Linked DNA regions of Homo sapiens: region 1 is linked to region 2. Evidence: fine-mapped expression QTL. A gene starts in region 2. The other region holds a variant in brackets. All regions are shown on one strand. Distances are from middle to middle. Region 1 overlaps BAIAP2L1 (BAR/IMD domain containing adaptor protein 2 like 1). Region 2 holds the start of BAIAP2L1 (BAR/IMD domain containing adaptor protein 2 like 1).

Region 1 (4,000 bases), 60 kb before region 2:
CTCTATTGGGTGTGCTGTAGCTATCTTGTGGTTTGGATTTGTGTTTCCCTAATGGCTAATGATGTTGCGCATCTTTTCATGTGCTTGTTGGCACTCTTACTTTTAACAGTTTTGTTAAGTCACTCGGAAGAGGAAAGAGTACATAGGGAAGTGCATTTACTCCCAAGTTGCTAAAGACCAAAAAACTTCTAGAACCCCACCTGCACTAACGAAGACTCTAACCCCCCACCAGAACTGTCTACCCTCCACCGTGGCACCATGGTGTGCCCGGGAATGCGGCTGGCGTGGCCAGGCCTCACTCGCTTCATGATTCTAGCCGCATCCATCTTTGAGTATCCCTCTCTTCAGCCTGTCACGGGAGCTACGCCCTTTGCTGCTACCTGTGCGTGTGACCGCAGCAGCTCTTTCTTGGCATGCTCTCAACCCCACTCCCCAATTTGGGTGTCATAACCTAGTGTTTTCGTTCCTGACCCTTCACTGCAGGCCCAGCATGGTGCTGTGAAAAAGTTAGAAATCCACACCTATTTGTAAGAGGATGTAAGTAGCGCTTGTGAACAAGGATGGTGATGATGGCAGAGGCACAGCCCCAGGTCCTTTGCGCCACCCCCCCTCGCCATGACAGGCCAATTATCCGGCCCAGTTGTTGCAGCTCCTTGGCCAGCGGTCCTTTGGCTGTGGCTGACAGCGTGAGGACAGGGACACTTACGCTGTCTCCATCTTGAGTTACTAGGACACACAATATACTTCAAGGAGAAAAAGACCAATTTGAGTAACTGTGAAAACTGGGTTTAAACAATTTTCTGTTCAAACACTTAAAAATCCAAAGATTTAAGAGAACGGGCAAACATAATAAAGTTACAATGAAAAACAGGAAATGACGTTTCAGGTTGACACTTAGGATGTGCCCAGTGAGCAATCTGGAAGCATGAAGTGTGAAATGGCTAATCTGATTCAATGATTCAGCTTCTACATAAGTAATATTTATTTCTTTATTTTTTTGAGACAGAGTCTTGCCTTGTCGCCCAGGCTGGAATGCAGTGGCCCAATCTCGGCTCACTGCAAGCTCTGCCTCCCGGGTTCACGCCATTCTCTTGCCTCAGCCTCCTGAGTAGCTGGGACTACAGGCGCCCGCCACCACTCCCGGCTAATTTTTTGTATATTTAGTAGAGACGGGGTTTCACTGTGTTAGCCAGGATGGTCTCGATCTCCTGGCCTCGTGATCCACCCGCCTCGGCCTCCCAAAGTGCTGTGATTACAGGCATGAGCCACCACGCCCGGCTATGTAAGTAATATTTACTAATTATAGTACATTGAGTATATATATACTCACTTCAAAGCTGAGAGAAGGAATGTTCTTCTTGTAACAACTTTTGTAAACAAGTACAATTTATAACACAGAACATCTTCCTAAACTTTAGGAATGTACACATACTTACACCAATGCGCCTACACGACACATGGACTTCCACAGTACATGCTCTTACAGGTTTTTTTTTTTTTTTGCAGGGGACAGAGTTTCACTCTGTCACTCAGGCTGGAGAGCAATGGTGTGACCTCAGCTCACCTCCGCCTCCTGGGTTCAAGCGATTCTCCTGCCTCAGCCTCCCGAGTAGCTGGGATTACAGGTGCCTGCCACCAGGCCCAGCTAATTG[G/GT]TTTTTTTTTTTTTTTTGTCTCTTACAGGTTTTATAAATTATAACCCTACCTTTCTAATTATTCTAGCTGAGACCTTTCCTGTTCCAAAAGGGAGAAGAAAGAACATCCACCCAAAAATTGAGATGAGAAAAGCCACCTTCAAGGTCTAAAGGCATTTATCATGTGCTTGCTTCCAGGAAAAAAATTATTTTCCAAACCCCAAACTGAAAATACTCAAGAAAAAAAGCTGGAATAATGATCGCATTATAAATGCTTCTAAGTAAAACCAGCAAAATTGTGATTACAGCTGAGAAAAATCCAACAAAATACAGACTCATACTCACATGGTTAGTCAGCATGGACCATATGATGGTTTGCAATTTAACACAATCCTTTATTTTGCTGAACTCTAATTGGCAGGAAAATCTGACAGCCATAAAGTAAAGCCGTTAGAAAAGCACAGTCCAGGTGCAGTGGCTCATGTCTGTAATCTTAGCACTCTGGGAGGCTGAGGTGGGAGGACTGCTTCAGCCCAGGAGTTCGAGACCAGCCTGGGCAACACAGAAAGACCCCCATCTCTAAAAAAAATTTTTTATTTTTTAAAAAAGCACATCTTTTGGACATATAGAAAATTAAGTTGGCAGACTAGGTCATATACCTGGTAGGTAGCCTGGGGTCCAATGAACCAGCCACTGACCAGATACGCGACCTCAGCAAGTTACTGCCTTTGTACCTCAGTCTCCTCATCTATAAAACGGAAATAACAAGCATGGGCCTCACAGTGCTGTCATGATGATTATAGGAGTTAATATTACATTTATAATGTGCTTAGAACTGTGCCTGGCATATAGCAGGTACAGTGTTCAGTAAATAAAATCTCCTCTTGTTTCTTTGCTATTTTTGTGGAAGAATTTTAATCTCTTTAAAGTGAGTCTAACCTGTAACTAAAAGATAAGTGATTTTGGTCAATTATAACTGCTGTGGCTCAGCTCAGCTCTTTCCCTACTGTGGTATGAATTCTTTTATCCAGATCTTAGGAATATATTTGTAATATTGTTGTGAATTAGTAACATTTCAAAAATGTTTCAGAAATTTTTTTCTGATTTTTTTTTTTTTTTTTTTTTTTTTATAAAGACAGAGTCTTGCTCTGTCATCCAGGCTGGAGTGCAGTGGTGTAATCATGGCTCACTGCAACCTCCGCCTCCCAGGTTCAAATGATTCTCATGCCTCAGCCTCCCAAGTAGCTGGGATTACAGGTGTACGCCACCATGCCCAGCTAACTTTTGTATTTTTAGTAGAGATGGGGTTTTGCCATGTTGGCCTAGCTGGTCTCAAACTCCTGGCCTCAGGTCCACCCACCTCGGCCTCCCAAAGTGCTAGGATTACAGGTGTGAGCCACTGCACCCAGGCTGAGCCACCGTTCCTGGCTTCTGCTCTAATTTTTAGACCAAAGACTGTCAGATTGGATTCTGAGTATCAGCAAGACAAATCTATAATGTAGTTTTTAAAAATTGCATGATCCATAAGCATTCTATCAATGATTAAAGGAAATCTATGATTTTCTAGGTTCCCTGATAGTGAGGAGATAAAATATTCTGTTTTGTGCCCAATTTCAGAAACTGGCCCAAACAATAAATGATTCAAAATGCAATGGCTGACTAAACTACAACAAAATAACATAGCCTAAATTTACATAATGGTGAGCTCTAAAAAGCTCAAAGCAAATTTATAAACTCCCCAAAGAAAGTCTTATTTCCTGAGAAGTCAATGAGAACATCCTTTATTTTTCTCTGCTTTAAGGATGAAAAAACTGACTCAAAGGTTCTTCTAAAGATTTTGGCAAAACATTTTCCCCTTACCATTTCTGTTTTCCCTTTCACCTTTTCAATATTTTCTGAGTTATAAAAATAAACCTTGCTTGATTTAGGAACAAAACTGGAAGTTTATGAAAATGTCAGATTCCTTTTTTAAATGGGCACTGCTGGGTAGCTGTGCTGCCTTGAACTGAACTGTGTACAGGTAATGAAGGATTAACCTTTATCACGTGTGATAAAGGATTTAACTTTATCACACGTGATAAAGTCACATGAGTGACTTTAGGTACACCCACTGACAATCTGTTGAGTGGCATGAATTTGACCCCATGACCTATTATTTAACAATTAAACAGTGGGAGCGGCCAGGCGCAGTAGCTCACGCCTGTAATCCTAGCACTTTGGGAGGCTGAGGTGGGTGGAACACTTGAGGTCAGGAGTTCGAGACCAGCCTGGCCAACATGGTGAAACCCTGTCTCTACTGGAAAAAAAAAATACACACACACACACACACACACACACACACACACACACAGACACACACACACACTAGC
Region 2 (4,000 bases):
TGGCAGAAAGAACGTTTTATTTACACACTTGGTCAGTACCCCACACCTCATGCAGCAACGTCTTCCGGGTCATTTAAATAGTAGCAATCTCAATACAAATGTAGGAATTTCTCAAATTTCGAATTTCTCAAATTTCTAAAGATCGCCCTCTATGAAGGCAACACACGAATAGAAGAGTTTTTGGTCACAGTGACTGAGCATCAAAAACGCTGTGTCAACTGTGTCTACTCTCCCTACCTGTAAGGCATAATTTATATGTGACAGTATACACTTTGTGTGTTAAGATAAACGGAACGGATCTCTTGGATTTCAATACATAACAAAAATGTTCATGTTCTTCTCTTACTTTCATTCAACAAAAGTTAATAGACTCCTCTGATTTTAGGAATTCAGACCTTGAAAACCCAGAAACTAAAATTTTAGGTTTAAAAAAGTCTATCAAAATGACTAAACTTCCTGATTCAAGCACCAGGGACAGAAAAAAGATAAAACACACCAACCAACCAACCGACCAACCATTTATTTATAACCTTAAACATGCCTATACATGAACTTAGAGAACGTTAAAGTTTCAAGGGTTCGAAGCGCCTAGGCTGAATTAAAACAAAAGTTGTTTTGTGTTCTATTAATAGCAGATGATTAACAGATATCTTATTTCACCTGGAATTCATTTGTAAGTATGTAAACTAAACAGGCCACTAATCCTAAGTCTCTGTCTGTGTCTGGAAAAATTCTCTCCTAATACATGCAAGTTAAGAGACCGGCTATCAACGCATTCCTTAAGGTTAGGTCAATTTCATTAAAACCTCGGTTGTTCTTTGACTTCAAGAACCTCACCAAATAACCCATATATAAAAGCCAAGTTCAACTGAAAGGTGGGAGAGGAAGGGTCTAAGGAGGAGGGCGTTTCCCGGGAGAACGCCCAGAGCTCGGCTCACCTGGCGATCCTAATTACAGGGGAGTTTCACCCCCACATTCTTGGGCGCTTTCTTTTCTTAGAGGAAACTCGAGCTTGTGTCTTTGGTCCCGGAGGGCTTAAGCCCGGCAGCCAGGACAGCACGGGTCACTGATTCCAAGAAGTTGGGAGGAGGACGTGGGCCCCACCGACGCACAACAGACCCCTCCCCAACTTAAGTGCACTAGTTGTAAAATGTGTAGCTGGTCAGGGGATGGGGGGTGGTCTCCAGAGCTCTGAGGGTCAGGGAAGAGGAGAAGGGACGGGGAGGAGAAGGGACAGGGGAGGCGGAGAAGGGCCAGGAGAGGAGGGGGAGACACACGGGGAAGGAGGAAGAACCAAGAGGAGGGGGAGGGGGAGGGGGAGGGAGGGGGATAGACTGGGGAGAAGAAGGGACAGGGGAGGAGGGGGAGACACACGGGGGAGAAGGAAGAACCAGGAGGAGGGGAGGGACAGTGTCGAGGGGCAGGGGAGGAGGGAGAGTGAACGGGGAGCGGAGGGGCAGAGGGAGAGGTACAGCGGGGCGGGAAAGAGAGACAGGGAAGAAGCACAGGGAGGAGGGGAGGGAAGGAGGAGGAAAAGTAGGGGGGAGGGGATGGGGAGGGACTGGGAGGAAGGAGAGGGCCAGGGGAGGAAGAAGAGGGGCTGTGGAGGGCCAGGGGAGGAGTGGGAGAGACCGGGAGAGGTGGAAGGACGCGGGGGAGGGGAGCTGGAGGGAGGGAAAGTACCTTCCCGCGTAAAGTCCCCTTCTGAACCCCGAGGTGGAAAGCCCTGACCTCCCTGAGCCCCGGGCCCTGGGCTTACCCGGTAGGTGCTCTCCGTGAGCCGGTTCACCTCCTCGGGCCCCCGGGACATGGCTGCGGCCGCCGGGCGAGCAAGCGCGGGAGGACGCGGCTGGGCCTCGTGGCCGCCGGACTCCGGGCAGCGGGAGGGCCGGGGCGCGACTAAGGGGCTCTGGAGGGTCGGCCGCCGCCGCAGCCGTCGGCCCGAGAGTGCCCGCGCGCGTCTCCGCTGCGAAAATGTCAAAACTTGCGGCAGCGCCGCCCTGGCCTTCTTCGAGGAGCAGAGGAGAAGCGGCCGGACGCCGCCAGAGGAAGCTGGGCGGGCCGGGCGGCCCCACCTGAGGCGGGCGGGGCAGACGGGGGCGGGGCCGCAGGGCCGGAGGGGCGTGGCGTACCCACCTGAGGCGGCCTGGTGAGCGGGGCCCGGCCGGGGTGGGCGGGGAGGAGGCGGGGCCAGGCAGCTGGAATGGGCGTGGCCAGAGGGAAGCGGGCCCCCCGAGTGGGCGGGGTCACCCCACCTGTGGCGGACAGGGCAGCGAGGCCACGGTGCGCCCCCTCGCGGCTCTCCCAGAGCTCCGGCGACGTAGGGCCCGAGACCCTGGAGTGGGGACCGGTGTGGAGTGGGCTGCTCGCTTTGCTGTTTTGCTAGGGCAAGGGCAGCCTGGGGGTGTTTAGACTGTGGTCCTGGAGCCCTTGTTTGCCTCGCGTGGTGCTGGCCCCGGGGACCCCGAGGCCCACTTCCTCCATGAGGGCTTCCTTCAAGCCCTGCGTTTTGGGGACCAAGGGAAGGGGCCACATTCCCCAGTTGTATTGATTTCCCTGATTGATCTCTTCTTGCCCCGCCGCTCACTGACCCCAAAAGTTAGAGGGACCCGTGGGGGCATCGGCCCTCCTAGGTGGAGAAAACGGGCTGCCACTTGCAGTTTTGAAAGCTCCTGATATATCAAAAAATTAATAAATGCCAGGGTCTAGTTACCGAAATGTTAGTACTTTTTTTTTTTTGAGATGGAGTCTCACTCTGTCGCCTAGGCTGGAGTGCAGTGGTGCGATCTCAGCTTGCTGCAACCTCCGCTTCCCAGGTTCAAGCGATTCTCCTGCCTGGCATGAGCCATCCTGCCTGGCCCCCAGATAGAAGCTTTTTGTTTGTTTTTGAGACAGAGTTTCACTCTTGTCCCCTCAGGCTGGAGTGCAGTGGTGCTCTCTCAGCTTGCTGCAATCTCTGCCCCCCAGGTTTAAGCAATTCTCCTGCCTCAGCCTCTCGAGTAGCTGAGATTACAGGTGCACGTGCCACCAAGCCAGGCTAATTTTTTTGTATTTTTAGTAGAGACGGGGTTTCACCATGTTGGCCAGGTTGGTCCCGAGCTCCTAACCTCAGGTGATCCGCCCTGCTCAGCCTCCCAAAGTGCTGGGATTACAGGCTTGAACCACCGCGCCCGGCCCAGTAGTACATTTTTAAACTTTACATTAACAACGACCTTTAACTCAATGCAGTGTAACCATGCTACTCACGAGATTGTTGTAGGGTTTAGAAAACCACCTGAGCTGAAGTGTTAGGGAAGCCTCTCTTCTTGTCATCACTCAAACTCTGTGGAGGTGTGTGGCTCCTGGGCTCCCTATTTTGTCTCCATCCCGGCCTCAGCCCTGCCCAAGGGTGAGGCAGCTGCCTTCTTTGGGCCTCTCTTCCAGGATTATGTACCTTGGGCTGGGTGACAGCCTTCTCCCCAGTAAGAACCACCATTTAGCTACCTGAGACCCGCACCCAACAAGGGCAGAGGTCTTATTCTGATTTTTTAAAACCTCTGGGCTTGGTGGCTCATGCCTGTAATCCTAGCACTTTGGGAGGCCAAGGCAGGCGGATCACTTGAGGTCAGGAGTTCGAGACCAGCCTAGCCAACATGGTGAAACCGCCCTGCCCCCGTCTCTACTAAAAATACAAAAATTAGCCAGGCATGGTAGCACGTGCACCTGTAATCTCAGCTACTCGGGAGGCTGAGGCAGGAGAATTGCTTAAACCTGGGAGGCAGAGATTGCAGTGAGCTGAGATAGCACCACTGCACTCCAGCCTGAGGGACAAGAGCGAAACTCTGTCTCAAAAACAAACAAACAAAAAGCTTCTATCTGGGGGCCAGGCAGGATGGCTCATGCCTGTAATCCGAGCACTTCGGGAGACCAAGGCAGGAGGACTGGTTGAGTCTAGGAGTTCGAGGCCAGCCTAGGCAATATAGGGAGCCCACCCCCATCTCTGCAAAAAATATAATTAAAA

What was found. PIP is the estimated chance that this variant, and not a neighbour inherited with it, causes the effect. A credible set is the group of variants that fine-mapping cannot tell apart.
Region 1: its variant is the best candidate, but not a certain one, in a credible set for the expression of BAIAP2L1 in whole blood (INTERVAL, PIP 0.89).

Annotation. Positions count from the first base shown.
Region 1 is chr7:98,339,307-98,343,306 of GRCh38, forward strand. The region is part of intron 3 of BAIAP2L1 (BAR/IMD domain containing adaptor protein 2 like 1); the gene reads right to left. Among named protein-coding and RNA genes, the nearest start is that of BRI3, 60 kb to the left of the region's middle. The variant G/GT (reference allele first, on the strand shown) is at 1,653.
Region 2 is chr7:98,399,043-98,403,042 of GRCh38, forward strand. It overlaps BAIAP2L1 (BAR/IMD domain containing adaptor protein 2 like 1), which reads right to left and starts at 2,048. Exons shown (of 14, transcript NM_018842.5): 1 at 1,760-2,048. The coding sequence starts at 1,810. RefSeq lists a silencer at 1,722-2,381.